4 linked regions of the Homo sapiens genome follow. The protein of the gene in region 1 interacts with the protein of each later gene in a pairwise test. Each region holds a gene or a part of one and is shown on either strand. Other genes may lie near its edges. The genes, in order: EVI2B, AQP3, AQP1 and GIMAP5.

Region 1 (9,915 bases):
GTCTATATATTTTTCTACTTCTAATATTTAGTTTATTTCATTATGCATAAAGTCATAAAATTATATTAAATTTTTTTCACTGTCATATTTCATAAAATTAAAAAATTTCCCATCGATCCTTATGGTGTGTTTTTGTCATAGAATCCCATACTTTTTTTTTTTTTTTTTGAGATGGAGTCTCCCTCTGTCACCCAGGCTGGTGTGCAGCGGCACCATCTTGGCTCACAGGCTCACTGCAACCTCCGCCTCCCAGGGTCAAGAGATTCTTCTGCCTCAGCCTCCTGAGTAGCTGGGATTACAGGCACCCACCACCACGCCTGGCTAATTTTTTGTATTTTTAGTAGAAACGGGGTTTCACCATGTTGGTCAGGCTGGTCTTCAACTCCTGACCTCAAGTGATTGGCCCACCTCGGCCTCCCAAAGTGCTGGGATTACAGGCAGGAACCACTGCGCCTGGTCCCATACATGTTTTTAAAGGGTTAGTCCCAAATCTAAAGTTTACTAGTAGTGCCTGTGTTTTCCAGCTAATTCCCACATAATTCTACTTAGAAGGAAACTTTAATTCTGATTAAGTTTGAATTGAGAAACATAAATCTGATGCCTTTCAATGTCCAAGCTTTAAAAAAAAAATCACCACAAAATTTTCAGTAAACTTACTAAATATGACACTTTATAGAAACCATTCCAAATTCTTATAATAGTTTTCGTAGAATCAGGACTAAAATGGGTTTTCAGGTATTTCTTTCCTACCCTTTATCTAAGACTACCTACAAGTGTTATTTACGTGTAATTCCCACCAACTCACATCTCCTTCCTTCATAAAGCATTTCTATTTCATAACTTTTCTATGAAAGGCAGTATAGCACATACAGTGAAATGTGATAGAAAGAAACGGTTCTGGCACAAGATTAGCATGATTTTTGTATTAGTGCCACTACTTAGAGCTGTGATACTGCCAAGTTACCCAACATCGTGGTGTCTCAGTTTCCTTATCTGTAGGATGAAAAAACCACCACCTAGCTAATTAAAATAGGATACTGCTTAGCCTTTGGTGGGTGCTCAGTAAATGGTCACTATCATGATACAAGATGGTCATCAAATACTTCCTATTGTAGTTGAAGGTCAATTTCTCTTTCCACTTTTCCTCAAGATGCAGAATGGCTGGTTTTTTCTTTTACGGTTTCAAAACTTCACTAGTTAGAGATAATACTACTGCTAAATTTTAATCTATTATATTTGCATCACAACTTTTATTATATCAAAGTAATTGATACAGCTATCTATACTTGTCTTTTGTCTAGGATATGCTCTCCAAATCTTGATTCTCTTTAAAAGATAATGGCATACTTCCTAACATATCCAACTTAACAGCATCAATTTTAAATGCTGGACCCTTTAAGTACTTATGCATTATATTTATAAGAACATGTCTATGGCCGGGCTCGGTGGCTCATGCCTATAATTCCAGCACTTTGGGAGGCCAAGGTGGGTGGGTCACTTGAGTCCAGGAGTTCAAGGCAAGTCTGGGTGACATGGTGAAACCCCATGTCTACAAAAAATACAAAAATTAGTTGGGCGTGGTGTAGTGCACCTGCAGTTTCTAACTTCTTTAGGGAAGCTGAGGTGTGAGGAGGATCGCTTGAGCCCAGGAGGCAGAGGCTGCAGTGAGCTGAGATTGCACCACTGCACTGCAACCCGGGTGACAGAGTGAGACCCTGTCTCCAAACGGAAAAAAAAAAAAAAAAAGAACATGTCTTATACACGGGGACTCCTGCTTCACTGTAACTGTCTTTAAAATGTTTAAATTTATGTTTTTCTTTTTAAAATATTCTAAATATTCAGCAAAGAAAAAGAACCAAAATCACAGATTTAAACCTCAAAGTGCCAGCCTATAATAATGAGTAAAAACCGGCATATGAGGGCTGACAAATTTGCTTGAGCAGCAGACTAAGGGATTTCTGGAAAACTCTATATAAAACGTACACGGGTACATGGGTTCTTTGGAATAATTGCTAGGTATGCTTCTGGATAGTGTCAGGGAAAAAAAAAGGGAGAGGATGGTAAGGATACTCACAGCAGACAGGAGAGCCTGAAATGAAAGGTAAATGAATTTGAAAGGATGGTTCCTTCTGGTCCTCCATTTTAGAAAGCAAGCTCCTCTTTACTGTCTCCCTGCACTCACAAACACAGGCCAGCCACAACAGAGCAGCATTTTGCCGTTGCTTCTTTCATCTACTTCAATCATCTCCCCCCACCCCCAACTTCATTTTGCCTACTTCAATCATCTACACTGCCTTCTTGCTAATTATATAACCACTGCTTTTTTTTTCACCTGTTTATTAACTTTTCTTCTTTTCTGTATCTTCTCTAGTCAATTGACCTTCCTCTTTTCTGTTCGCTGCTTCCTAGAGTTTTTGTTTTTTCTCTTTTGTGTTATTTTGTATTTCTTTGCATTGCCTTTTATATTATTCTAAATCTCCTTTTTATTCCCCTGCCCAATATTGTTCTTTACCTACAGAAACAATGTTGGTACTTCAGGTACACACCACTTACATATTTTAAAATGTGTATGCTAAATAACCTTCCACACTGGTAGTAACGCTGGCCTCATTACCGCTGGGAAAAAAGTCAGTTTTTTCCACTACCATATTCCCTATTTATTCCTCTTTTAAATCTTTCTTCTCCTTCTCTGGACTACACTGAATTGCCATCATAGAATTCTAATACAGTTTCTAGTACTCTGATGTGGCAGATCCTAGGAGGATAAAAAGCTAACTGAAGAGTGGTAGAAAGTGTTAGGATAGGCAAAAAATGGAATTTGGTTTTAATATTGCCATAACCGTTAACTGACAAGTGAAAATCTCATACATGGAGGGTTCCACCAGCTTACTACTGACAGTAGAGGATAGGAGCCTATCAAAATTGATCTTACAAACTAACCTGGGTTTAAAATTATGTTCCTGTTTGGGCCCTGTCCTTCTCTAATGCCTTTTTCAGCTAACTGAAAAGAGGAACCGTATGGTTTCCTTATTTTAAGCAAAGTCACAAAAGAGGAAACATTTTTGGCTAAAGACAATTCATGGCTTATATTTTCTGATGCTTTGCATAGCATTAAAACAGATTTTTAAAATGAAGTTCTGAAGAGAATAACATTTTCTAAAGAAGTCCCCCCGCCTTTTTTTGTAATCTATAAGAATAATGGGTAGGAACTGCATGGATGATGACCATCCAGAGATTATTCAAATCCCTATATCTATGCCAAAAGTGTTCAAATTTTCCCTTTTAAATCTTTTGCAAAATGGATAAAAAGCAGAATTTATTAACTCAGATTTCACTGCCTCTGCTTATTTTCTGGTAGAAGTACTAGTAAAAAGCAAAAACTAAAATGGAAAGGAATCAAGAAGCCCAATACAGGTTAAATGTTTACTGTGCTCCTAATATATAAGGCATTAACTACAAAGAAATCAAAATATAAAAACATGAGGCAATAAAGGGTAGCAGAAAGAATGTATGCTTTGGAATCAGGTGGCCCTGGGTACAAACTCCCAATCTGTCACTTCGAGTGGTATAACATCAGGCAAACTGCTTAACTCATTTGACACTGTCTCTTTATCTGTAAATAAGGGATCCCTTTACCTTCCTTATAAAGTCATTTGAAGGTTCTGTGAAATAAAGTATGCAAAACTGGGATAGTACAACACATAATATGCTCTAGATAAGTATTTTTCTTTCTCCTTTCTGCCTTCTTCAAGGTTCTTTATAATCTTGTTCAAGGAAGTAGGTATAGGAAAATGTGAAAAGTAAACACAATTACTTAAGAGAATAGAAGTGTGAGTGAGATACATACATGAATTATGTAAGGAACCATAAAAACAATAAATGAGAGCTAGGGGGAATTCAGTAAATGACTGATCTGTTTGGGCTGTAGTCAGTCACAGAGAACTTGGGTTAAGAAGGGGAATTTAAACTGAGGTCTGAAAGATGAGGACAGATTCAGATATGCAGCCAGAAAGGGGAAGAGGCTAGGTCTGGAAGAAAAATAAAAAAAAAAGAACACCCTTGAGAAGGGTAAAAAACAGCATAGAAGTGTCTGTTTAGCAGGGAAAAATCGTGTGTTTAGAAAGTATGCAAGGTGGGAAAGGGATGCATTTGGCTGGATAAGAAGTTTCAGTCATGATACGTGAATCTGGACTGGTTAACTCAAGCCAGAAGGAAGAAAACTCAATTTAGAAGTTTTATCTTAACAGGCCAGGCGTGGTGGCTCATGCCTGTAATCCCAGCATTTTGGGAGGCTGAGGCGGACAGATCACTTGAGGTCAGGAGTTCGAGACCGGTCTGGACAACATGGTGAAACCCTGTCTCTACTAAAAATACAAAAATTAGCCAGGTGTGGTAGTGTATGCCTACTGTAGTCCCAGCTACTCGGGAGGATGAGGCACAAGAATCGCTTGAACCCAGGATGTAGAGGTTGCAGCGAGACAAGATCATGCCACTGCACTCCAGCCTGGGTGACAGAACGACTCTGTCTCCAAAAAAAAAAAGAAAAAGGAAGTTTTATCTTAACAGAAATTAAACCCTCAAGCAAGGCAGTAGTAACCTGATCATGCACACTTTTAAGATTAATTCAGCAGTGTGCAGGAGAGTTCAAAGGAGAACTGTTTTAAAATTCAGGCTTGAATTATTCGTATAGGGAAAAAAATCACATATCTTTTCTTCTACTAAAACAGGGCCATTTATCATCACTGTGTACCAAGTGGTAGAGGAGTAAGCAATGATATGCTGTTTAGATATGCTGAAAAGGTAATTTGTAAAACCTTTATTGCACCTTCCAACAGAACATCAAATCTCTCTAAATATAGGCTTATGAGTCAGAAGAACTATAGTTTCTAATCATGTATACCAATATCTAACACCCTAAGATTTTCTATTCCCTAATGTTAAGAGATAACCAAATAGTTGCCATTGTGTTTGATGATGTGCAAAACAAGTATATTATACCAAAAGTTGCAAATTGTCTCAGTAGAACTCTTCACTTTAGAGGAAAGGCAATTGAGAACAGGAAAGGTTAAGCAACTAGTTCTCATGGTTAGACAGGTAGTTAGATGGGAGAAGTAGAACTGAAACTTAACTCTCCAAGTTTTAGCATCTACCACATCCCAGAAAAAGCCCTATCTGCCAAACTTTCATATGTGCCTTATTTTCCTGTGCCCACATTGTTGCTCTCCCTGGCTGGAAACTTAATTAGTTTTTATAGACTTTTAAAATTCAGTTCAAGCTTTACTTCACTGAAGCCTTTCCAGGCTAGGTTAACTTCTCTGTACATCTCCTGCATACTTTTATGAGAAAGCTTATCAAATTATTGTAATTGGGCCAGGCGTGGTGGCTCACACCTGTAATCCCAGCACTTTGGGAGGCCAAGGCAGGCAGATCACCTGAGGTCAGTTCTCGAGCAGCCTGGCCAACACGGTGAAACCCCGTCTGTGCTAAAAATACAAAAATAGGCCAGGCGTGGTGATGTGTACCTGTAATCCCAGCTACTTGGAGGCTGAGAGAGGAGAATCAGTTGAACCTGGGAAGCGGAATTTGCAGTGAGCCCAGATTGTGCCACTACACTCCAGCCTGGGTGACAGAGTAAGACTGTCTTGAAAAAAAAAAAATTATTGTAATTATTTTTTAGCTTTTTTTCTTTCTTCTTTTTATTTAGAGATGGGATCTTACTATGTGGTCCATGCTGTTCTTGAACTCCTGGCCTCAAACGATCCTCCCATCTTGGCTTCCCAAAGTGCTGGGATTACAGGAATGAGCCACTACGCCTGGCCTTTACTGTTTGCTTCTATCACTAGAATCTGAAACACTTAAAGGCAGTGACTATCTTTTTTTTTTTTTTTTAATCTCCTAAACCTAGAACAGAGCTCCACACAAATGTGGCATTTACCAATAGATGAATGAAAGCAGCAGCAGGACTACTTGACCAACTGGATTGAATTTACTCCACCAGATTCAGAGATCACTCTAGGATTTTAAGCCTAAGACTCTGAGTTGAATGAAATTCTTTAAAAATATGCAATATTAACATAAGGCTACCACGCTACAGAGACACTAAGGATGCTTCAAAGATTACTAATAGACTCTGTGCCTAAGAAACTTAGTGGTACCATTAACAGATACAGAGAAGTTGGGAGAAGAGTCAGTTGTCAGTTGTGAGGGTAAAGATGAACTCCATTTTAAATATGTTGAATTTGCTGATAGTGGGAGATATTTATATCTATATCTATGTCTATCTATCTATATATATAAAATATGGAAAAATCCACCAAGAAGTCACACAAATAGAATTAGGACAAAGAAGATGTAGGCTGGAGGTACAGGTTTAGGAATTGTGGCATAAAGCTGAGAACTAAAATCTTACAGAATCAGGAACAAAGAAAAGTAGGTAAGGGTGAGGACAGAATATCAATTAACCATATTTAGGAGGCAGAAGAAAAAGAGCTAGTGAGAGTAACATGAAAGGAAGACTGATTACAAAAAGCTACTTGAATATTAGTGAAGGAACAGTAGTGTCTAATGTGGTCAAGGAGGGGAGGGGAGAGAAGAAATAAAGAACAATTAGATTAGGTAACAGATGATCACTGGTGTTCTTCAAGGCAGGAGAATCAATATATTTCTAGTAGAAAATGGTGAAAAAAGGTAGAGAACACATGGATCCAGCATATAGAGCCTATGCGTTTTGAGAAGTATGACTAAGTGAAGTACTGAAATATAATGAAGCTAGAGGGGCAGCAGAGCCAAGTACAGAACTTGTATTAATAAAAGAAGAGAGATCACTGCTTATGAGGTCCAAATGCTGTATGATGGGTTAGAGTATATCCAAGAGTTGTTACACCAAACCTACAGTGTATCAAGTCTAAATTAGGAATAATAACTACTAATCAACTACTACTAATTAGGAATAATGTCTACCTACTTTATGCCAGGAATCATAATGAAAAGTCAAATTTTTAACTAGACACCAATGACGCCTAACTGTCTTTCTCTTTCATTATAAACCCGCTATAGATAACGAGGAAATATTCTGAAATGGATCCCAAATATTTCATCTTAATTTTGTTTTGTGGACACCTGAACAATACATTTTTTTCAAAGACAGAGACAATTACAACAGAGAAGCAGTCACAGCCTACCTTATTCACATCATCAATGTCACAGGTATTGGCTAATTCTCAAAACACAACAGGGAATCCTTTGGGTCAACCAACACAATTCAGCGACACTTTTTCTGGACAATCAATATCACCTGCCAAAGTCACTGCTGGACAACCAACACCAGCTGTCTATACCTCTTCTGAAAAACCAGAAGCACATACTTCTGCTGGACAACCACTTGCCTACAACACCAAACAACCAACACCAATAGCCAACACCTCCTCCCAGCAAGCCGTGTTCACCTCTGCCAGACAACTACCATCTGCCCGTACTTCTACCACACAACCACCAAAGTCATTTGTCTATACTTTTACTCAACAATCATCATCTGTCCAGATCCCTTCTAGAAAACAAATAACTGTTCATAATCCATCCACACAACCAACATCAACTGTCAAAAATTCACCTAGGAGTACACCAGGATTTATCTTAGATACTACCAGTAACAAACAAACCCCACAAAAAAACAATTATAATTCAATAGCTGCCATACTAATTGGTGTACTTCTGACTTCTATGTTGGTAGCTATAATCATCATTGTACTTTGGAAATGCTTAAGGAAACCAGTTTTAAATGATCAAAATTGGGCAGGTAGATCTCCATTTGCTGATGGAGAAACCCCTGACATTTGTATGGATAACATCAGAGAAAATGAAATATCCACAAAACGTACATCAATCATTTCACTTACACCCTGGAAACCAAGCAAAAGCACACTTTTAGCAGATGACTTAGAAATTAAGTTGTTTGAATCAAGTGAAAACATTGAAGACTCCAACAACCCCAAAACAGAGAAAATAAAAGATCAAGTAAATGGTACATCAGAAGATAGTGCTGATGGTTCAACAGTTGGAACTGCTGTTTCTTCTTCAGATGATGCAGATCTGCCTCCACCACCTCCCCTTCTGGATTTGGAAGGACAGGAAAGTAACCAATCTGACAAACCCACAATGACAATTGTATCTCCTCTTCCAAATGATTCTACTAGTCTCCCTCCATCTCTGGACTGTCTCAATCAAGACTGTGGAGATCATAAATCTGAGATAATACAATCATTTCCACCGCTTGACTCACTTAACTTGCCCCTGCCACCAGTAGATTTTATGAAAAACCAAGAAGATTCCAACCTTGAGATCCAGTGTCAGGAGTTCTCTATTCCTCCCAACTCTGATCAAGATCTTAATGAATCCCTGCCACCTCCACCTGCAGAACTGTTATAAATATTACAACTTGCTTTTTAGCTGATCTTCCATCCTCAAATGACTCTTTTTTCTTTATATGTTAACATATATAAAATGGCAACTGATAGTCAATTTTGATTTTTATTCAGGAACTATCTGAAATCTGCTCAGAGCCTATGTGCATAGATGAAACTTTTTTTTAAAAAAAGTTATTTAACAGTAATCTATTTACTAATTATAGTACCTATCTTTAAAGTATAGTACATTTTACATATGTAAATGGTATGTTTCAATAATTTAAGAACTCTGAAACAATCTACATATACTTATTACCCAGTACAGTTTTTTTTCCCCTGAAAAGCTGTGTATAAAATTATGGTGAATAAACTTTTATGTTTCCATTTCAAAGACCAGGGTGGAGAGGAATAAGAGACTAAGTATATGCTTCAAGTTTTAAATTAATACCTCAAGTATTAAATAAATATTCCAAGTTTGTGGGAATGGGAGATTAAAATGCATGTTTGAGAATAGAGAAATTTTCTTCTTGGTTTCATTGCAAAGAGTAAAACAAACATGTTAAAACATCAACTGAAGGGTTGGGTTAGGAACATTTACCCTGAAAAAAATATGAGGATGCATCATAAAATGTAAATATTTTCCTACCATGTTGGGGGGGCACAAATTTTAAAACTGGCATCTTTACAAGTTTCTTCTTTATAAACACCCAAACAAAATCAAGTTTTATAAAGCAAAAAAAAGGAAAAGAAGACTATGGCTTCATTCTAAATACGGGTGACTTTGGGTGATTTTTTTTTCAGGAAAAGAGACTATCAAAACACAGATGATTCTCAACTTTTTACTAAACTTATACTTTCTGATGCTATCCACTCTTAAGTCACCTTTCTTACACAGAATTTCATCTTTATCCATTATCTGACAATTGGTAAGTCTGAGTTATTAGAGTAGGAATGGGCCCAATCTTTGTCAAAGTCAAGAGTGGTCATCAGCCTATACTTTTGGGGATGCCAGCCTTTGTCTGCAGAAGTGCTCCTTTGCCCAACAAGCACATATTCTTCCTCATTAGTCCCATCTAACTCCAGGGGGAAACAAGCACTTAGAATAAAATGGTAGCCCAGTCTTGGAGAACCACTCATAGTTCTGGGATTTTCAGAGTAGAACATAGCATTTATTCATAGCACTGGCATTCATGACATTAACAAAGCTCCATATTTAATAAGAACCAGTAGGGTTTTGGACACAGGAATTTTACATACAATGTTTTTCCTAAAATCTTTCAAGCCATCTTTACTGACCATTAATTTTTTAATCTATAGAAACACTTCCTTGAGCTTCTTACTTTTCCTGAATAAGCATGATACTTATTGTCATATTACATCTTTTGTCTTCCTCATTAAAAATTTTCTTTCATGTATTCTTCAAAGTTAGTACTTTTGTTCGAGACAGAGTCTCACTCTGTCGCCCACGCTGGAGTGCAGTGGCATGATCTTGGCTCACTGCAACCTCCGCCTC
Region 2 (6,849 bases), on another chromosome or scaffold:
CAAGCAGGGCAGGGCGCCTCAGACCCTCACGTGCCTGTCTCCCACCACCCCTCCTCACACATACACCTGCAATCTCTGATCTTTGCTCTCACCTGCCTGCACACCTTTGCCCCATGTCATTGCCGCTGGCTTCTCCGTTATCTCTTGGTCTTTCTGGGATGATAATCAAAATGCTTAACTATCCAGTACAACAGGCACTGACCCGTCAGAATAAACAAGGTCTGTAGCACAGGTCCTGGAAACTGCCTGCTCTGTGGGCATAAAACCTTTAGTTATGGGCAGGTGGGAGAGGAGACCAGGGCAAGGCATTGGAGCAGCTTTGAGGGACACTCAGGGGGCTCAGGGCAACAATGCTTTACAGCTGCTGCAGAAGTATTTTCAGGCTTGAACAAGGGGAACAGACATAGTACGTTCTTTTTCTTTTTTAAATAGAGACAAAGTCTCACTATGTTGCCCAGGCTGTTCTCAAACTCCTGGGTTCAAGATCCTCCCATCTCAGCCTCCAAAGTGCTGGGATTACAGGTGTGAGCCACCACAGCTGGCTCCAGTATGTTCTATATTTGTAGAACACCAGGGCTCTTAGTCTCTTTTAGTTCCCCCATTTTTGGCAGAAAGTTTAGAACCGATCTCCCCATTTCTACAGCCCTGGGTCCCGGGCTGGGGATAGTGAGAGGAGCCACACAGATCCCTGTCTGTAGGACCTCCAAATCTGAGTGGGGAATCTGGACCCCTGAGAGCAGAGAGGTCATGGGTGGAGAGAGGAGACGCTGGGACAGGGACAGGTAAAGGAAGGGGAGGTTGTTGAGGGGGACATGGTGAAGGCTGGGGCTCTGGCATCCTGGACTCAGGAGAAGTGGATTCAACCTCACTTCTGGTCTCCTCCCTATTTATTTATGCCGCCCATTGCCACCACTACCACCACCACATGAGCTTTTCTTTTCAACTCTTTTTTTTTTTTTTTTGAGATGGAGTCCCGCTCTGTCGCCCAGGCTGAAGTGCAGTGGCGCAATCTTGGCTCACTGCAACATCTGCCTCCCATTTTCAAGTGATTCTCCTGCCTCAGCCTCCCGAGTAGCTGGGATTACAGGCACCTGCCACCACGCCTGGCTAATTTTTGTACTTTTAGTAGAGATGGGGTTTCACTATGTTGGCCAGGCTGGTCTCAAACTCCTGACCTCAGGTGATCCACCCACCTCGGCCTACCAAAGTGCTGGGATTACAGTGTGAGCCACTGCACCGGGCCTACATGAGCTTTTCTTTGGGGCAGCTGGGGGATGAGTGAGAGGCTTCCCACCTTTATGGTCCAGGCCTGAAGGGCTGTGGAGAAACTTGTGCTAAGGTGAAAGCTGTTCCCCTACACCTACGCCTGCTGAAATTCAAGGAAAATCAGTGAAGATGGTTCAGTCATCTTCTAGGATCCCAGTCGCAGACCCTGCTTCCAGCCCTTTCCATAGGGCCCTCTCATATTAGAGTTGGGACAGTGGGGTGGGAAGGCATGTGTCCTTTTTCTGGAAAGTGCAATTACAGCAGAAGGGGTTTGGGCTGGGTTCCAGGAAGCGCCTCTAGTCCTCCCAGTGGTGGCGAGTGGGCATGTTGCTGGCTTCACCCCTTCCTTCTGGAGTGAGAGTTGCTGGTCCTCACCCTCCCTGCCTGTTCTTCTTCCTGACAGATGTTTGGCTGTGGCTCCGTGGCCCAGGTTGTGCTCAGCCGGGGCACCCACGGTGGTTTCCTCACCATCAACCTGGCCTTTGGCTTTGCTGTCACTCTGGGCATCCTCATCGCTGGCCAGGTCTCTGGTAAGGCCTTAACCCTGCCCCCAGCCCTTGGCCCTCAATAGCATTCCCACTAGGTGTCCTGGCATTCCTAAGGGCAGGTCACAGCTGTGGCCTCTGCTTTGGCCCCTTGGGAAAGGAGGGTGGAGAAGAAACTTGACACTTAGAACTTTCGACTCTCACCTTGGAATCAGAGATTATCAGCTGACCTGTTACATAGACCAACCGCCATCCTGTGCAAGAAACCCCTCTCTGCACCCCTTCTCAGGGGACCCTAGCCTGCCGACTGTGGCAGGCTGCAGCTAATAGGTCCCTTGTCCCCTCTGCCCAGGGGCCCACCTGAACCCTGCCGTGACCTTTGCCATGTGCTTCCTGGCTCGTGAGCCCTGGATCAAGCTGCCCATCTACACCCTGGCACAGACGCTGGGAGCCTTCTTGGGTGCTGGAATAGTTTTTGGGCTGTATTATGGTAAGCATTCCCCACCCTGTCCTCCTCCACTACCCCCGTCCCTCTGTTCAGGACCTGCTGGCACCAGGCCTTTTGATGACAGACGGCTAGGACCTGCCCAGGCCCCGGGCTCATGACTCACTCATTCACGCACAGGGTCAAGGTAGGGGGCACGAAGGGAAAGAAACAAGTTGGGCAATAACAGAGTCTCAGGCCCTCCACCCCACCCCACGCCACCCCCTCTGCCTGCTGCAATACAGCAGTATTGCTACTTACCCATAACTCATGGGAGGGTGGGGAGGGCACACCTGAGAGGGAAGTCTGGGCTCAGGCCTCTCCCCCGACTCACTGTGTGTCTAATCTGTCACCAGATGCAATCTGGCACTTCGCCGACAACCAGCTTTTTGTTTCGGGCCCCAATGGCACAGCCGGCATCTTTGCTACCTACCCCTCTGGACACTTGGATATGATCAATGGCTTCTTTGACCAGGTATGGGCTGGGGACGTGTGAGGGGAACGCAGGGAGGGGACCGAGTTGCCTTGGTAGCTCATGGGCTGGTTGGGGGACAGGACTCCTCGACTGTAGCAGGGTTTCTCCAATCTGTGGGGTAACCCGCATCAGAACATGGTGGCAAGTACTTACAAAACATGCGGCTCTCCAGCGGGTTCTTGTCACGCAGACATTCTAGCACCATTGCTTTCAGGAGAAGAGCATGGGCGGGCGCTGACAAGAGTTTAAGAGCTAGAGGGAAGACGGGGGATGGAAGGAGGGGTCAGAGAAAGGGAGGGAGCTGCAGCTCACCCTGTTCTCCCCACTCCCCAGTTCATAGGCACAGCCTCCCTTATCGTGTGTGTGCTGGCCATTGTTGACCCCTACAACAACCCCGTCCCCCGAGGCCTGGAGGCCTTCACCGTGGGCCTGGTGGTCCTGGTCATTGGCACCTCCATGGGCTTCAACTCCGGCTATGCCGTCAACCCTGCCCGGGACTTTGGCCCCCGCCTTTTTACAGCCCTTGCGGGCTGGGGCTCTGCAGTCTTCACGTGAGTACAGCCCCCACCCAGCTCACCCCAGCCTGCCTCTCCTCTGCCCTGCCCCCCATGTCCCTGACTATGAGTGTCTGTCCCCCCAGGACCGGCCAGCATTGGTGGTGGGTGCCCATCGTGTCCCCACTCCTGGGCTCCATTGCGGGTGTCTTCGTGTACCAGCTGATGATCGGCTGCCACCTGGAGCAGCCCCCACCCTCCAACGAGGAAGAGAATGTGAAGCTGGCCCATGTGAAGCACAAGGAGCAGATCTGAGTGGGCAGGGGCCATCTCCCCACTCCGCTGCCCTGGCCTTGAGCATCCACTGACTGTCCAAGGGCCACTCCCAAGAAGCCCCCTTCACGATCCACCCTTTCAGGCTAAGGAGCTCCCTATCTACCCTCACCCCACGAGACAGCCCCTTCAGGATTTCCACTGGACCTTGCCCAAATAGCACCTTAGGCCACTGCCCCTAAGCTGGGGTGGAACCGGAATTTGGGTCAATACATCCTTTTGTCTCCCAAGGGAAGAGAATGGGCAGCAGGTATGTGTGTGTGTGCATGTGTGTGCATGTGTGTGCATGTGTGTGCAGGGGTGTGTGTGTGTGGGGGGGGTTCCCAGATATTCAGGGCAAGGGACCAGTCGGAAGGGATTCTGGCTATTGGGGGAGCCCAGAGACAGGGGAAGGCAGCCTGTCCATCTGTGCATAAGGAGAGGAAAGTTCCAGGGTGTGTATGTTTCAGGGGCTTCACATGGAGGAGCTGCAGATAGATATGTGTTTCTGTGTATGTGTATGTCTGCCTTTTTTTCTAAGTGGGGGCTTCTACAGGCTTTTGGGAAGTAGGGTGGATGTGGGTAGGGCTGGGAGGAGGGGGCCACAGCTTAGGTTTGGAGCTCTGGATGTACATACATAAGTAGGAGCAGTGGGACGTGTTTCTGTCATAATGCAGGCATGAAGGGTGGAGTGAAGTCAGGTCATAAGTTTCATGTTTGCTTTTGTTTTGTTTTGTTTTTAATGTATGTAGCAGATGTTACAGTCTTAGGGATCCGGGATGGGAGACCCCACTTTAGAAAGGGTCGTCACTCCTTTAATCCTCTACTCAACAATGTACTCTTTTACTTTTATATTAAAAAAAATAAAATAAATATGTGCCTAAAACCTCCAGTTGTGCAAATATCTTTCTGCTTGCTCTGCTGCTTTTCTGGGGCCAGTTAAGGAGCTTCCGCATGCCCACACTGACCCAGGGTGCCCGGCTGAGTGTCTGATCTGGTCAGGTTACCCTGGGGGTCATACAGAGAGGTTAGAGAGCCTCTTCACCAAGGCTCTCAGTTTGAACTCAGTGGTCCCAAACTTTCCCCCAAGTTTCCGTCCTCATGGGTACCCCCAGCATAATGAATGGAATCTTCTTCCCAATCCCTGTACCCACACATCACCCCAGAAAGGCTTGAGCCCTATGCAGGGAAGATCTTGCTGCAGAGCTACCCAATGGGGAGAACTGCTGCCCAGGAGGTGGTGAGTTCCCTGTTCCTGGAGGAGACCCATCAGACTGGGAACCTGTATTGTCCTCCACAACCTGCAGCTATTCAGGCTCCATAACCTCCACCCAGACCTTGGCCACAGCCCCCCTGGCAGCCTCCCTGCCTCCAGGCCTGCCCCAGTCAGTCCACAAAGCAACCAGAGGGATCTCTTCAAAACCTCTGCTGAAAGTGCCCATCTGGAGACCATCCACAATGCTCCATCTGGCGTTCAGGACCTCCAGGTAGGGTCAGGAGCCTACCCCTCCTCTCACATGGCTCCATCCACCTCAGCCTACTTTATGTGTTTCTGTGTTTTTGTGTCTTCAGACTTTGCTCCAAAGTCCCAACTCACATCTTTGCTCATTAAAGTCCTCATGATCTGCTTTAACGCCTCTTCCTCCGGGAAGCCATCCCTGCTCTGCCTCACTCTTCCAGCAACTTCTAGTCAGCTGTCTTAAGTGCCAAGACCCGCAGTTGCGTTCACGCTCATCTCCCCTTCTGCTTCATTTCTTCAGTCATTTCTTCACTTCTACAGAGGCACCTCTGTGCCCAGTAAGGCAGGGGGTTGGAAGACTGACTCTGGCGCTCTGACTTGCCCAGAAAAGCAACGGGCTCGGCACACCTGAGAACAGGAAGCTTTTCTCATTTGCTTCTTCCTTACCATACCCTCCTCAAGTTTCATCAAGGGAAACTTCATGCAATACAAGGGAAGGCATCCCCTACCCAATCCCTCCTCTGAGCGAACCCCATGGGAGCCAGAGGATCCCTGGGTGTGGCAGGCGAATTGTGGTTTTTAGAAGCTAAGCCAGCTTTTGCTCTCCAGCCTTCACAGATGAGATCATGGTCCAGAGAGGGCGGGTGGCAAACACAGGGTCACACAGCCAAGAATCTGCCTACGGAGGTGAGGGCAGGAGAAGGCAATACCATTTTAGGTTTCTATCCCTTCTTTGTCCCCAGCTCCCAAGAGGCGTGTCTGGAATGCTGGAGGGACCTGAGCCAGAGGGAGTGTCCCCTTCCCAGGCCCTGGGGGGAGGAAGGGCAAACCTTGGGAGGGGAATACGGCTGCAGAGGGTCATTCCAGCCACACCAGTCCCACCTGGGCTGCCCTCACCTTGCTGTCCTCCCCAGCATGCCCCATGTCCTTCTGTCACCCATTTCTCTCAAATCCTGCTGCTGACCCTGACCAGTCAGCCTAGGGGGTGTTGGCAGCACTTTTGGTGCTGCCACCTGGCCCAGCAAGGATTCTCTAGCTGGGTGACCTTGGGGTAGTCATGTTCTTTTCCTGAACCTCCCTTATCTGTGAATTGGGAGATATTGAGAGGAGGAAATAATGGAAGATGATTCATGGAAAGGACTTAACACAGTGATTAGCAGATGGTAAATCCTCAATAAATGTCACCTCATGATTTTTCCTGCAGAACCAGAGATGGGGGTGGGGAGGCAGTGGAGGGAGGATGCTAAAGGCTGTTTTTTTTAAAGGTCATTGAATTCAATATCCTCTTCCTCCTCAGATTCCTTCCATGGATTCTGAATTTCCCGAGAAAGGGGAGGGAGGAAGTGTGAGGGCGATAGCGTGCTGTGTCCTGACTTCAGAAGGCTCTTGGGAGAGATGGAGGGGAGACAAGAGGGGCTCACACACAGGATGCAGGGCAAAGAAGCACGTGGCCGCAACCAAGGGAACGTGTTGCCTGGAGGGTCAGGCCATGTGAGAGAGGGTAAGGCCCGGCCAGGACCAGGAGCAGTGGGTCAGGGCAGGGGCTGAAAGGGACATGAGCCAGGCAGCAGCTGTGTCACCCCTCCAGGGGTAGAAGGGAAGCTCCCCACCTCCTCACCCCACCTCCAGGTGTACCTTCCACCAGCAGTTCTGGCTGTCAGAAAGTTCTAGCAAAACAACTCTTCATCTCCTTTAGGAAGGTGTCTTCTCCCGGCCGGGCACGGTGGCTCACACCTGTAATCCCAGCACTTTGGGAGGCCGAGGCGGGCGGATCACGAGGTCAGGAGATCGAGACCATCCTGGCTAACACGGTGAAACCCTGTCTCTACTAAAAAATACAAAAAACTAGCTGGGCGTGGCAGCGGGTGCCTGTG
Region 3 (7,079 bases), on another chromosome or scaffold:
TAATGCAAGTGTATTAGATAGTTGAAGGAAGGTTGTCAGTAGATGTTGAAGCTATCAGGGGAGGCTTCCTGGTGGTAGTGGTAGTGGGTATTGGAGAGGAAGGCTGTCAGCCCATGTGGTTCTCAGCAGTCACGAAGGCACATTCCAGAATTCCCAGGGCAGGTGGCTGACCCCTCCCCTTCCCAAGGACTCAGAGTACAGGGCCTGGAACTATCACCCTCTGCTCTGCCCACTTTGCATGAAAAGCATGTTGTCTTTGGGTAGGGGCTGGGGCTCTCGCACCTGGTTAAGAACCAGAGGAGATGAGCTCTTTCTGGTCACATCTGTGAGGGATGGGGCTGGGAGGGTTCTCCAAGGCGGGAGCCACTTACAGCGATGACTCCATTAATCATCGGGGAAGGGCTGGTTTCAGGACTTCTGCCAGCTAGCAATTAGGCCAACCCTGGAGAGCAGAAGAGAGAGGAATAGAAGGAGCCACGAGCTTCCTGAGGGCTCAGATACAGAGGGACAGGGGCCTCACAGGTGCAAGTGTGGGTGGGCATCAGGACTAGCCGGGCTGGCCTCACCAGCCTCAACCCCATTCAGCCTGTCCTAACTCTGGGCAGGCTTCTGCCAGCAGCTCCACCCGCCGTCACTCCTTCTGCCTGTCCCCAGATCCTGCACACACAATGAGAAGAACCAAAACAAGAGTCACTACCACTGCCCCATCCCTCCTGCGTCGACAACTCTTTCCAAAAGCCCTGAGACGGCCCCTTTGGCCTTTGAACCTCCCAGCTGCTCTGGAGAGCAGGCACGGACAATGAGATCCATTTTGCAGATGGGAAGACTGAAGACCAGAGGGAATAGGCCATGCTCATGGTGCCAGAAAGTAGAAGAGTCAGAACCTGAACACAGGGCTTCTGCCTCTTTGGCCCAACCTTGGGACAGAAAGGGAACTGGGCATTGGCCAGAGGGCTGGCGGACCTAAGGGATGTAGCCCTGGGGTCCGCCAGGAAAGGCCCAAAGCTGGGGCTGCAAGGCAGGGGAGGGGATGTGAGTCATTCCCTGTAACCCAGGGCTGCAGACAAAGGCGGGAAGAGAATTGTTCTTGTAGGATGGCCTCAGGGTGGGGCTGGGAAAACCTCCAAGGTGTGCCCCCCTACCTTGGATTTTGCAAAATTCTCTATGGCCTTGGAGACACTCCCATATCCTGAGGATGGGAGCTGGGTAGTTTGTCTCCCAGCTGGGAAGTGTTTGGGTGCACCAGCCCTGCCTGGGAGAAGGCAGCCTAAGTGGCCTCAAGTGGGCATCTTTGCAAGTGAGCCTTTGCTGATGTGGTCCATCTCCCCTGTGTGAGTGCACTTAGCCCCTGGGACGGCCACAAAGCATAGTGGAAGGTGCTGGGGCTTCCTGGGGAGGGGTCCTCCGGGGGCAGCTGCATGGGGAGGGCCTTCATGACCTCACAGCAGCTTCCATTCCCTTCTCTTTCCATGAGTCATGTTTCTAAAAGTGGCCCAGGAGTAAGTGGCAGCCAGACGGTGGTGGCGGGGCCTATCTGGCCAGGCAGAGGGAGGGTGAGGCTGAGGCCAGCAGTGGGGAGGAAGAAGAGAGAAGGAGAGACAGGGAGGGCAGGGCCAGAAGCAATGGGAGACAGGCCTTGGACCAAGGAAAGAGACGGGGTGGAGAAGGAGAGAGAGAGGGTGGAGACAATAGGGAGGCAGGCACAGAGGAGAAAGAGGGGTGGAGGGAGCCAGGACCTCACCGAAGGCCTCCTCAGCCCTGGAATTTAGATGCAGTCGGGCATGGGGTGGAATGTTCTGGACTTTTGGGTATGAAGCCGTGTCCCCTGCTGGGCCTTCCCACCTTTTTGCATCTCTTCTCCTAGGAGTGCTCCTGACCATCACCTTCATGCCTGGGGCTCGCCCCTTGCCTCTGGTCTTGGTACCCCAGAATACCCTGGCCTGGATGCAGCTGGATGCAAAGGCCCCAGCTCACCCCAGGCCTCTCCAGCTTCTAGGCAGAGTGGGGCCTGGGTCTAGGCAGGTATTAGGGGCTGGGCTGGAGTTTCATTAACACAGGGGGTGGGTTCAAGGCCTGATTTCCACTACCTGCCGTGTAGGCTTGCCTGGGACCCTGTGATGGGCTCTGAAGGCCCATCTGAGGGTCCGCCCTTCATGCCTGGGCCTGGGAGGCCTGGGTATCCTTGGGGTCCTGGGACACAGTCCCTGCCTACCCTCCTCACCAGTCCTCACCACCTCTCTCCCCTGCAGCTGGCTGATGGTGTGAACTCGGGCCAGGGCCTGGGCATCGAGATCATCGGGACCCTCCAGCTGGTGCTATGCGTGCTGGCTACTACCGACCGGAGGCGCCGTGACCTTGGTGGCTCAGCCCCCCTTGCCATCGGCCTCTCTGTAGCCCTTGGACACCTCCTGGCTGTGAGTCAGGGGCCCTCCCAGATGGAGGTGGGGGAAGGGAGGGCGGGGGCTGGTGGGGTGCCCTGCCATGGGCAGCCAGTGGGACTCCCGACAGGGCTCTTGCCATTGGGTGGAGGATGGCGGGTCAGCGCTGGGGGCTGGGGGCAGGGTCCTGCCCTGGAGAGGAGCACAGGGACCTCCTGCCCAGCTTGGGGTCAGCACTCCTCTTTCCCTGGGTCTCATTGTCCCCCACCCTGATTGTTCTCTTTCTCCCTCCAACCTCTCCCTCCTCTCACTCTCTCTTCACCTATGACTCTCTGCCTTCGCCCCTCCCTCTGTTTCTTTCCCTCACAGATTGACTACACTGGCTGTGGGATTAACCCTGCTCGGTCCTTTGGCTCCGCGGTGATCACACACAACTTCAGCAACCACTGGGTAGGAGACCCACGGGGGGTGGGGTGGGAAGCTTTGGTGTCCCATGGTAAGCCTGACCCCACCCTCACAGTGTCCCTTCCTGTTCTGGAGGCTCTGGGAGACAGCCAGAGGACAGGAAATCAGGAAACTGAGGCCTGCCATGTAGAGGCAGGCTGGGGGTCACACTGCCAGCACTTTCAGGCCTAGTCTCTGCCCTCCCAGCTCGGCCCTGCCCCATGCTGCCTGGCCTCCAGGTCTTCCCAGCTGCGTGGTTAAAAGTGGGGCTCCAAATCCTGGCTCAGCCACTTTCGGGTTTAGCATGACCTTGCGCAGTGTGCTTGAGCTTTGGTTTCCTGAGCTGCGGAGGGGGATATGGTGGTGCCCACCTCTCAGGGTGGCCGAGAAGAGGAAAGGGCTCACTCCCCATCTGTAAACTGAGCTCAACACAGAGGAGGCGCTCAGTGGATTTTAGCTCTTATGGTTGTGGATGTGGATGTGCTAGGCCAGCTTTGCATTAGACAATGGTCTCTGGGGCCCTTCCAAAGCTGGGAGTGTGGGGGCAGTGGCCTTCCTCAAGAAGGGGCTGCTACTGCCCATGCCTGAGCTGGGCCCCACAGAGGCAAGGAGTTGACCCTACCACGTACTCTGGCCTGGGCCGGTTCTGAGGGGCACCGGAATCATGATGTTAGGATTTGGCTCTCCTACCTGCCTCCATCCCAGGTGGGAAAAACCTGTCCAACGGGGTGGTGGGCTGTGGGGTAACCTAGGGAACGCTTCCCAGGGGCTTTTGAGTGGAGCCCTCTGAACACACCTGCTCTGTTCCTAGATTTTCTGGGTGGGGCCATTCATCGGGGGAGCCCTGGCTGTACTCATCTACGACTTCATCCTGGCCCCACGCAGCAGTGACCTCACAGACCGCGTGAAGGTGTGGACCAGCGGCCAGGTGGAGGAGTATGACCTGGATGCCGACGACATCAACTCCAGGGTGGAGATGAAGCCCAAATAGAAGGGGTCTGGCCCGGGCATCCACGTAGGGGGCAGGGGCAGGGGCGGGCGGAGGGAGGGGAGGGGTGAAATCCATACTGTAGACACTCTGACAAGCTGGCCAAAGTCACTTCCCCAAGATCTGCCAGACCTGCATGGTCAAGCCTCTTATGGGGGTGTTTCTATCTCTTTCTTTCTCTTTCTGTTTCCTGGCCTCAGAGCTTCCTGGGGACCAAGATTTACCAATTCACCCACTCCCTTGAAGTTGTGGAGGAGGTGAAAGAAAGGGACCCACCTGCTAGTCGCCCCTCAGAGCATGATGGGAGGTGTGCCAGAAAGTCCCCCCTCGCCCCAAAGTTGCTCACCGACTCACCTGCGCAAGTGCCTGGGATTCTACCGTAATTGCTTTGTGCCTTTGGGCACGGCCCTCCTTCTTTTCCTAACATGCACCTTGCTCCCAATGGTGCTTGGAGGGGGAAGAGATCCCAGGAGGTGCAGTGGAGGGGGCAAGCTTTGCTCCTTCAGTTCTGCTTGCTCCCAAGCCCCTGACCCGCTCGGACTTACTGCCTGACCTTGGAATCGTCCCTATATCAGGGCCTGAGTGACCTCCTTCTGCAAAGTGGCAGGGACCGGCAGAGCTCTACAGGCCTGCAGCCCCTAAGTGCAAACACAGCATGGGTCCAGAAGACGTGGTCTAGACCAGGGCTGCTCTTTCCACTTGCCCTGTGTTCTTTCCCCAGGGGCATGACTGTCGCCACACGCCTCTGTGTACATGTGTGCAGAGCAGACAGGCTACAAAGCAGAGATCGACAGACAGCCAGGTAGTTGGAACTTTCTGTTCCCTATGGAGAGGCTTCCCTACACAGGGCCTGCTATTGCAGAATGAAGCCATTTAGAGGGTGAAGGAGAAATACCCATGTTACTTCTCTGAGTTTTAGTTGGTCTTTCCATCTATCACTGCATTATCTTGCTCATTCTTCAGTTCTCTACTCCCTCTTGTCAGTGTAGACACAGGTCACCATTATGCTGGTGTATGTTTATCAAAGAGCACTTGAGCTGTCTGAAGCCCAAAGCCTGAGGACAGAAAGACCCTGATGCAGGTCAGCCCATGGAGGCAGATGCCCTTGCTGGGCCTGGGGGTTTTCCAAGCCCTCAGCTGGTCCTGACCAGGATGGAGCAAGCTCTTCCCTTGCTCATGAGCTCCTGATCAGAGGCATTTGAGCAGCTGAATAACCTGCACAGGCTTGCTGTATGACCCCTGGCCACAGCCTTCCCTCTGCATTGACCTGGAGGGGAGAGGTCAGCCTTGACCTAATGAGGTAGCTATAGTTGCAGCCCAAGGACAGTTCAGAGATCAGGATCAGCTTTGAAGGCTGGATTCTATCTACATAAGTCCTTTCAATTCCACCAGGGCCAGAGCAGCTCCACCACTGTGCACTTAGCCATGATGGCAACAGAAACCAAGAGACACAATTACGCAGGTATTTAGAAGCAGAGGGACAACCAGAAGGCCCTTAACTATCACCAGTGCATCACATCTGCACACTCTCTTCTCCATTCCCTAGCAGGAACTTCTAGCTCATTTAACAGATAAAGAAACTGAGGCCCACGGTTTCAGCTAGACAATGATTTGGCCAGGCCTAGTAACCAAGGCCCTGTCTCTGGCTACTCCCTGGACCACGAGGCTGATTCCTCTCATTTCCAGCTTCTCAGTTTCTGCCTGGGCAATGGCCAGGGGCCAGGAGTGGGGAGAGTTGTGATGGAGGGGAGAGGGGTCACACCCACCCCCTGCCTGGTTCTAGGCTGCTGCACACCAAGGCCCTGCATCTGTCTGCTCTGCATATATGTCTCTTTGGAGTTGGAATTTCATTATATGTTAAGAAAATAAAGGAAAATGACTTGTAAGGTCCTTCAGGCTTCCTGTAGTTTTTCTTCTTTTGATGCTGTGTCCCCACAAATGTTTCTGGATTACTCCACAAGGAAATCAGGCCACTGCTAGAGACCCAGTCTGAGGAGGAGCCACTGCCTCCCCTTCTGCCTTCAAGACCCCTGATCTCAGGCAATGGATACAGCCACACCACAGAACCCCATCTGAGGGACACAGGGTCCTGCCCCTAGTAGGAGACTTCCAGAGCCCAGTGGGATGACTTTGGAGACCTGGGGGCAGGGAAAAGGGGCAGGCTTCTGATCAGTTTAAATGGACCGATGGGAGCCATTTCTGATTCCGGAGTATGGAAGGGATGGGGGAAAGCAGGGCTGAAGTCTAACAGCCCCCTCATCCCCTCTACCCTCCACAGAGCAGGGCCCAGGGAACACTAGGGATTGCTCCACCTTCCTCCCTCCCTCCACTCACATTTGCAACCCATCTGACCTGGGCTGGGCGTCTCATGGGAGACAGACTCACTCATCAGAGCCCAGTGCAGTTAGGGCTACTTCAGGCTGAGACTGGGACCCTGGCTCCTGACCCTCCCGACGTGCACACACACTTAGTAGTGCCTGATAATAGGGAACAGGTATCACCACGGCAGTGGGCTGAGGCAGGAAATAGTGTATGGACAGGTCCTGGGGCCCCAGCACTGCTCCTGGGAGACACATGGTTCCTGTCCCCTCTGTGGAATGCCTGGCTGATGGTGATATAAGGGGGGCTGGGTCTCAGGGAGCCAGGGGCTAGGCATCCGCAATGAAGACTGAGGCCATGTTGATGGAACAGGGTTTCTAATTTAAGTGTGCCCTGGGTCACTAGGCTGTCTAAGTCCCTGCAAATCAGTGCATCACATCTGCACACTCTTTTCCGTTCCCTTGCAAGAACTTCTAGCCCATTTAATAGATAAGGAAGCTTATCTCCCAGCTTAAGAGGGGCATATAAATGGCAGAGTGCCAGCCAAGCTATGGGAATTGGGTATGGGCCAGCCCGCTGCATCCCAGGCCTGCCTGTGAGGGTGTGCCGAGGCTATCTCTCACAGCCCTTCTCAGCTTGTCTCCTTAATTTGTCCCATTCTTCTTGGCCTGAAGCCCTCCCAATCACCACTATGGGCCCAGCCACGCCACCTCAACTCCTACTCATTCACTTCTACCCCCACCCCCATTTCACCCCCGCTCCATGGCACAGCCTTCTTTAGTGTATTGCTTAGATATGACTTTTAGAATCCTAGAGCCACGAGGCAGGGCCTGAATAAGCCATTAGGGAACTGGTATTTCTTGAGCACTTACCATGTGTGAAGAATCTCTCTGAGATTTTGCATACATTCGCTCTAATCTTTACAACATCCTTAGAAGGTAGAGATACGT
Region 4 (6,644 bases), on another chromosome or scaffold:
CCTTCTTAGCTCACAGCTGTACAAAACAGGTGGTGGGCCAGATTTGGGCCGAGGGCTGTCATTTGTTTCACTGATTTCCCATTGTTGGCTGGGCTGAACTGCAATGCGATATCTCTAACCCGAAACTCAGTACCATCCAGGACAGTGACGTGTGATGTCCATGGGAATTTGAGGAAAGGGTGGTGTTCCCCATCTCAAGCAGCAAAGAGAAGAAGGCAGACATGGGGCTCAAGTATGGGCAGATCGGGAATTCAGTGGAAACAGGTAATCAGATGAAGAGGAAGTCCCTGGGTCCCTCCACCACACCTTCTTCTTTGTGTTCGGTAAGGGAGACCTGCAGCCATCCCGGACAGGCCATGGCTGGATGGGCAAGTGACTACTCTGGGGTGAGTCTGAGGTGCTCAGCTGTGATGCCCCTTAGCAGCATCCTCCAGCACTGCTGCTGGCAATGAAGCTCCACGTCTGGCTCCATGGCACTGACTCCTGCATCGTCTGGCACAGAACTGATTCCAAACATGTGCAGGGAGTATGTTGTGTGCCAGCTCCCCAAACCCTGGGAACCCTGAGTTCTCAGACTGAGGACCACCTCCTCAATTCATTGTTCCCAAACTGCTCCAACTGAGCTTGACTTACTTAATTCAGTCCAGCTTCACAGACATTTATGATGTGAGTACTGAGGGTCAGGGTCAATGCCTGGCACCAGGAGTGTAAGATAAAAAATAACAGGCTTCTGCTCCCCAGGAGGGGTAGTGGGGTGGAGGGATGAAAGCACATAAAAGTGGGGCTGTAGGAGAAGGTTTCTTTTGGAAGCAATGTCAGCAAGAAGGAGACCACGGCAGGCTCTGCAGCAGCTTCCTAGACAGGGTGATGCTAAGCTGACTGGGAACATCCTTGCCTCTTGGGGAAGTCACTGGAGGCTGAGGGACACGTGATTAAGGAAGGGGATGGGAGTCAGCACATGGGAGGAGGGGTGCACAGGGGACTGGGGCTGGGTGGGGAGGGGGGGTCTGGGCCTCATTCTTAGGATTCAAGGGTGCCTTCTGGAATCCTCCCTGGAGGCTTCTGAGCAGGTTGGTGTGTCTTGGGAAAATCAGGTGGCAGCTGGGTTGTATAAGTATAAGCCTGGGGACAGGGATAACATTCGGAGGAAATCAGCACCTGCACTCCAGCAATAGCAGTGGGGATGGACAGGACAGATTCGGGAGAGGTGAGGAGGTGTCCTGCGGTGTGGTCTCTGATGGCAACATCGGGAGGGAACTCACCTCTGTCCTGGATGACTCTTTGAAATGTGGTTCCCTTCACTGCAGCAGCCCTGCAGAGGAGGAGTGGGCTGAGCCAAGGGAGACAAAGACTGCATATAAGTGTGGTGACCTTGAAGCCTCTGGAAACTGGTCCAGTAGATGTTGTCTGGGCTCTCCCTCCCTCCAGGGAGGCACTCTTGATTGACATAGCCATGATCTTAAGAAAGCATTACAGAGCGGCGCTGCCAGAGTAGCTTCCTTCCAGTGTGGGGATGGTCCATTCCTGGGTCGCCCAGTCCACACTCCCTCTACTAACAAGGAATCGCTTTCATGGTGAGCAGGATTGCCTGGTACCCAGTCAACAACCTGTCCCCCACCCCCACCCTGTGGACATTGACTTCCAAAGAAATAGAGCTGGAGAGTTGATCCAAGGACATTTTACAGTGGAGAAGGAGAAAGAGTTTGCTTAACCTTTCTCATGTGTGAACATTTGCCAAAGTGATTCCTTGCAGAGCATTGAAATGTGAGCTGTGTTTCTTTTGGGCCCCTGGCCAAACTGAGAAGAAAGCACAGAGAAAGCCCTGCGTACAGGGCACCCCATTTCCTTGACCCTCTCCCACTCCCATTCGTCAATGCAATCCATCCATCTGAAAGTGTTTTGCTTTACTCAGAGTTCAGGGAATGTCCACTATGTGGCAGGCACTTCAGTAGGAGCAGGAGGTTCTTCCTAATTTTAGGAACAAGAAAAGCCAACCCTGTTCCTTTATTCTAGATGCCACTTGCTCAAAGGAAGCATGTGGACTGGGAAGTTCCAACAGATTTAAAGGATAAAAAGGAATGTGGAGAAATTTTTATTACTTTGAATGTTTTAGAATGCAGGTAGAAGAGACCCGGAGCTCAAATAGCTTAAATAAGTAGGAAATCTATTGGCTAATACAACTGGAAATGCGGAGATAGGGCAGGCTGCAGGGCTGGTGGCTCAGGGCTCAGGGGGCCCCAACTCTCTGTGCTGCTCTGAGGCACTGCCTTCAATCTCAGGTTGGCAGCACAAAGCTGCTGAGAGTCCCAGTGTCACGCCCAGACCCCACAATGCCAGGGAGGAAGACAGGTTCTATCTAAGGAGAGATCTTCCATCCCCACCTCTGCGGACTTTTACTCACTTCTCAGGGACCTGCATGGGATCTCAGGCCCATTCCTGAAGCAGTTGTTGGCAGACAGAGTGGAATAGTGTTTACAGCAGGCAGGCAGCCTTGGAGTGGAGGCACACAGCTCCAAGTCTATCAGGAAGAAGGGGAAATGGGAGCTGCACAGACAGCAAGCAGCATGCTCCATAGACCACGAGGATCTGAGTCTGAATTGGTGATTATTAGAACAATGACTCCATGGGGTGATACATTAGAAGTGCTCCAGGGTCCAGAGATTTAAATGTAATGAAAGATGAACAGAAAAATAATGAAAAAAAGTATGCTGCACAACAATAGAAAAACAAAAATCTCATAATGCAAAAGCATCAAGTGTTTGACTCTGAGGAGCGCCTTGTATGCCCAGTTACTCTCGTTCTCCCTCAGCTCTTGCTTGTGCTTCTCCACCTGCCATTCCACTTTGGCCTGGTACTGCCTGTAGTCTTCCTGGCAGGCCCCAGCTCCAGTTCTTTGGAGCAGCTGGGCATCCAAGAAGAGGTCATTGCTGTGGAAGGAGCCCTCTCGCTCCCTCCCCAGCCTCTCAATCACAGCCAGGAGCTCTGCCTGCTGCTGCCTCTGCTCCTCCACAGAGCCCCAGTTGTTGAAGGCACAGTACCTTCTCTCACACTCCCGCACCAGGTCTTTCAGGCTGCAGTTGTCCGTGTTTGCTACATAGTCATCCAGGGCCTGGCCCCCTAAGTCCTCTTTGTGGGTGAAGAGGATGACCACATGTCTCATGGCCCCTGTCCCAAAGACCTCTTTCACCTTCCTGATGGCCACTGTGTCCTGAGCAGTGAAACGCCCCAGCTGGATCACCAGAAGCAGGACGTGGGGCCCCGGGGCAGAGAGCAGGTAGCAGTCCCCGATGTTCTTGTACAGCTCTTGGGTATCGGCCTGTGACTCAAAGATGGAGGGCGTGTCAACCACCAGGACTTTCCTCCCGTTCCATGTTCCTGTTTTCACCTGGCACGTCCTGGTCACTGACTGGGCCCTCAGCTTGGACTCAAACACGGGCTGGCCAAGGATGCTGTTCCCTGTGGCACTTTTCCCGCAGCCTGTTTTGCCCACTAGGATAATCCTCAATGCCGGTGGTGTTGCAGACAAGTTATCTTCTGATCTACCTGTAGAAAACGAAGTTTTGTATCTTACTAAGTTAATGATTCTTAAGACTGTTAGGTCATTGTTCATGGTTATCTCATGAAAGCTATGAACGTCCTCCCCAGAATGACAGACATATTTATGTGTACATAAAAGTGTGCATACAACTATAGGTGAATCTTGCATGTAGAAAGCCCCATTGGAAGCCCATGCTTGGATCCACAGCCAGGAATTAGAACTGTTGCATTAAGGGGATGCTTTAAGCACTTCATCTGGATTGTGGCAAATAGAGCTTTCCTGAAAGAAAATGGTCCTTGTGTTTTCCCCTGCGTGGTGTTTAGGCCAGCTCCATGGAGAATTATTAGAAAGAGGCAGGGGATTAGTAGTTACAAGTGAGAAAATCCAATTACTTCTCTTTCACCCACACATTTCCAGGCACACTTGTATAGACACACTCCACACATTCATCCAAGTCTTGAGGGTCAAGGAGGTCTCCACTGGCAAATCTATAGTGACCCACTGCCGGGGGTCAGCTGCCTGTCCCTGGGTCTGTGCCCTCTGGATAGGGAGTGAAATGTTTGAAATTGAGATGACATAGGTTGTAGTTAATGTTAGGGCAGCGTCTGGGAGATGACCCTAGGGTGGATGGCTCAAAAAGGTGGAAGATAAGCTCAATAGAAGCATGTGTGTTGAAAAGCTCATCTATGTGGCTGATTGAAGCACACAAAATTATAGCAGAAGTGGTGTTGGAGAGGGTGACACTGTGGCAGGAGCGAAAATCTTCAGGCACGAAGAGGGGAGAACCTGTGGATTTCTAGAGCCCAAATGAATTCGAAGTGCATTTTAGGCTCTTAAAAATCTATTATTTTATTTCTCCCACTCTGGGTTGGTTCTTCGTTTTCTTAAGTTATTCTGTGGTGTTTTGTAGCAAGCACAATGACTAAATCCCTATGGGGACCTTTTCTTTTTGAGCTGTCAGCAGACAAAGAAAGAGAAAACATATTCACCATTTGCTTCCAGACCCTTCAACCTATGACTTGGTTTCCTTTCCACATTTCCCACATACCTGATGCAGGGAGAGCATCACACTATGGTGTGTGTGTGTGTCTGTGTGTGTGTGTGATGGTTTGATAACACACACGTGATGATAGTTGCCTTTATCTTCTTCATTTAAAATGAATGGGTTTCTGCCACTGTGTTTTAGATGGGGGTAGATGGGGAGAGAATTGTGATTCTCCCAAGTGTCTGGGGCTCTTGAGAACTTCAAGACTTTCTTACCTTCAGCCATAGTTCCATATTTGCCCCTCTGGAATCCTCCCATTCTCTCCTGGAATAAAAACAGGAAAAGGATAAAAAGCAGATGTACGTTTGGGAGCTGGTAGAGCCTGAGGGCACCTCAATTCAGACATCTAAGAATAATCATTCTCAAATGAGCCATTTCCATCCCTAATTTTCTAACTCATACTTTACTTTGAAACATCTGTAAATAACTTTAAACAAAGCAGGTGATGTTAGATGTTAGGTTATGCTAAAATAGTGCACGATTACTTCCCTCCCCTCAACTTACAGAAAATCAGGAAATATTTTGAAGCAAATCAGTTGATTATCTCCCCCAACCAGAAAGGCATGAAATGGAGAAAGCATTCTTCTATGGAACAAAGAGTAGGCATTAAAAAAATTGAAATTAAAGTAACAAACTTACCAGAATAGAGAAAAAAAAATTGCCTTGCTGTAAATAAGATTGGTTTATTTGAAGTAGTGGAAACTTCCAGTCCCAGAAAGTCTTTGTGTCAAATGGACATTCCAGCGGCGGAGAGGAAATTACAAGGTACTGTCCAGTGGGAGGATGGAAGTGGGGATCAGGGACACGAAGAACTGACGTGAGAGGAAATGGTATAGGGGGACCGGTATGACCGCTTTCCCACCCTGACGGTTGGTGGAGAGGAGGTAGTGAGGTGATTGAAGAGAAAGAATCAACTTCAGGCCGAATTCAAGAACAACTCATTGCCTGCTCCGGGTTTCCAGCATTGTGCAACAGTATTGGGGATGTACATTTTCCACGTGACTGGTTATTGCCAAATATGACTCCCAGGGAGTTGAGTTAACTCCTATTTGCACCACCCATTTATAAGAAGTCCCCAAATCTTCACAGGCACTTAGTAATATTACACTTTTAATTTCCTGTCATCCTTATGGGCATAAATAAGGATGTCTTAATTGGCTTAAACTTACATTTTACTGATTATCATTAAATTAAAAACAGTTTTCATGGTTTATTTGCTATTTTGGTAATTTATAAACTTCAATTTTTAATAACTTCTGTGATTTCTATCTTTTCCACATTTTTCTATTCATTCAGTGGATTTTCTTGGCCTTCTTTAGGTCAAGAAATCTATTTTTATATTATCAGAATGTATTAAGACAGCTTCCTGCCTCCCTCCCTTTCCCTTCTTTCTTTTCTTCCTCCTTTCCTCTTTACCCTCCCCTCTCTCCTTTCTTTCTTTTTCTTAAGCCCAGAGAAGAACATTTTCCTCTCTCCCACACCCTGTTCTCGTCTCTGGTAAATTATGCTTCTGGCTTTTGCTAAAATAGCACCAGTTCCCTGACATCCTCTCTACTTTAGATGACGTTTTCTGAGGTTTGGAATCAACATAATGATGTGGTAAGGGTCAAGATGACAGTGGTAATGATATTGATTATGAACATCATAATTGTAATAAGCCTCTGTGAATACATTTATAATTTTCAAAGTTATTTCATCCTTCTTATTTTAATTGCTCTCTCAAATTCCCTGTGATGTGATCAAAACTGATCTTAAAATTTCTATTAAAATGCAAGGAAACTGAGCATTAAATGACCTGCCAAAGGTCACATATTTACAATGGAGCTAGCATCAGGAAATGGCTCCTTTTGCTGTGTATTGTCCTTGATTCCACAGGTGGAAAAAGAGACTTTTCCAAAAAAGTCAACAAACCTCTTGGAACATGTGTACAATGCTGCCACTCCCTGGTCAGGAGACAAATTAATTGGACAGCTAGAAGCCTACCCTAAAACCAACACACAGAATTTTATTGCAAAATCTTGAGTGCATTTCTTATAAAAGGTTATTCAAAAATAAAATTGC

What was found.
Region 2: the proteins of EVI2B (region 1) and AQP3 interact in binary tests that used the Homo sapiens proteins (3 or more experiments, as listed by UniProt).
Region 3: the proteins of EVI2B (region 1) and AQP1 interact in binary tests that used the Homo sapiens proteins (3 or more experiments, as listed by UniProt).
Region 4: the proteins of EVI2B (region 1) and GIMAP5 interact in binary tests that used the Homo sapiens proteins (3 or more experiments, as listed by UniProt).

Annotation. Positions count from the first base shown.
Region 1 is NC_000017.11:31,302,772-31,312,686, reverse strand, and holds the end of EVI2B (protein EVI2B precursor), read left to right. Parts: intron 1-7,056; 5' UTR 7,057-7,077; coding exon 7,078-8,424; 3' UTR 8,425-8,917; downstream 8,918-9,915. UniProt on the Homo sapiens protein: Required for granulocyte differentiation and functionality of hematopoietic progenitor cells through the control of cell cycle progression and survival of hematopoietic progenitor cells.
Region 2 is NC_000009.12:33,438,713-33,445,561, reverse strand, and holds the end of AQP3 (aquaporin-3), read left to right. Parts: intron 1-1,669; coding exon 1,670-1,796; intron 1,797-2,103; coding exon 2,104-2,241; coding exon of another isoform or gene 2,242-2,357; exon of another isoform or gene 2,358-2,383; intron 2,384-2,591; coding exon 2,592-2,710; intron 2,711-3,043; coding exon 3,044-3,261; intron 3,262-3,350; coding exon 3,351-3,519; coding exon of another isoform or gene 3,520-3,572; 3' UTR 3,573-4,402; downstream 4,403-6,849. UniProt on the Homo sapiens protein: Aquaglyceroporins form homotetrameric transmembrane channels, with each monomer independently mediating glycerol and water transport across the plasma membrane along their osmotic gradient. Could also be permeable to urea.
Region 3 is NC_000007.14:30,919,817-30,926,895, forward strand, and holds the end of AQP1 (aquaporin-1), read left to right. Parts: intron 1-2,249; coding exon 2,250-2,414; intron 2,415-2,747; coding exon 2,748-2,828; intron 2,829-3,633; coding exon 3,634-3,813; 3' UTR 3,814-4,010; coding exon of another isoform or gene 4,011-4,193; 3' UTR 4,194-5,700; downstream 5,701-7,079. UniProt on the Homo sapiens protein: Forms a water channel that facilitates the transport of water across cell membranes, playing a crucial role in water homeostasis in various tissues.
Region 4 is NC_000007.14:150,739,082-150,745,725, reverse strand, and holds the end of GIMAP5 (GTPase IMAP family member 5), read right to left. Parts: intron 4,848-6,644; coding exon of another isoform or gene 4,842-4,847; coding exon 4,799-4,841; intron 3,544-4,798; coding exon 2,663-3,543; 3' UTR 2,080-2,662; downstream 1-2,079. Other genes in the region: GIMAP1-GIMAP5 protein, read right to left, coding at 2,663-3,543, 4,799-4,847. UniProt on the Homo sapiens protein: Plays a role in T lymphocyte development and the optimal generation of CD4/CD8 double-positive thymocytes. Inhibitor of GSK3A, possibly by sequestering GSK3A in cytoplasmic vesicles and impairing its translocation to the nucleus.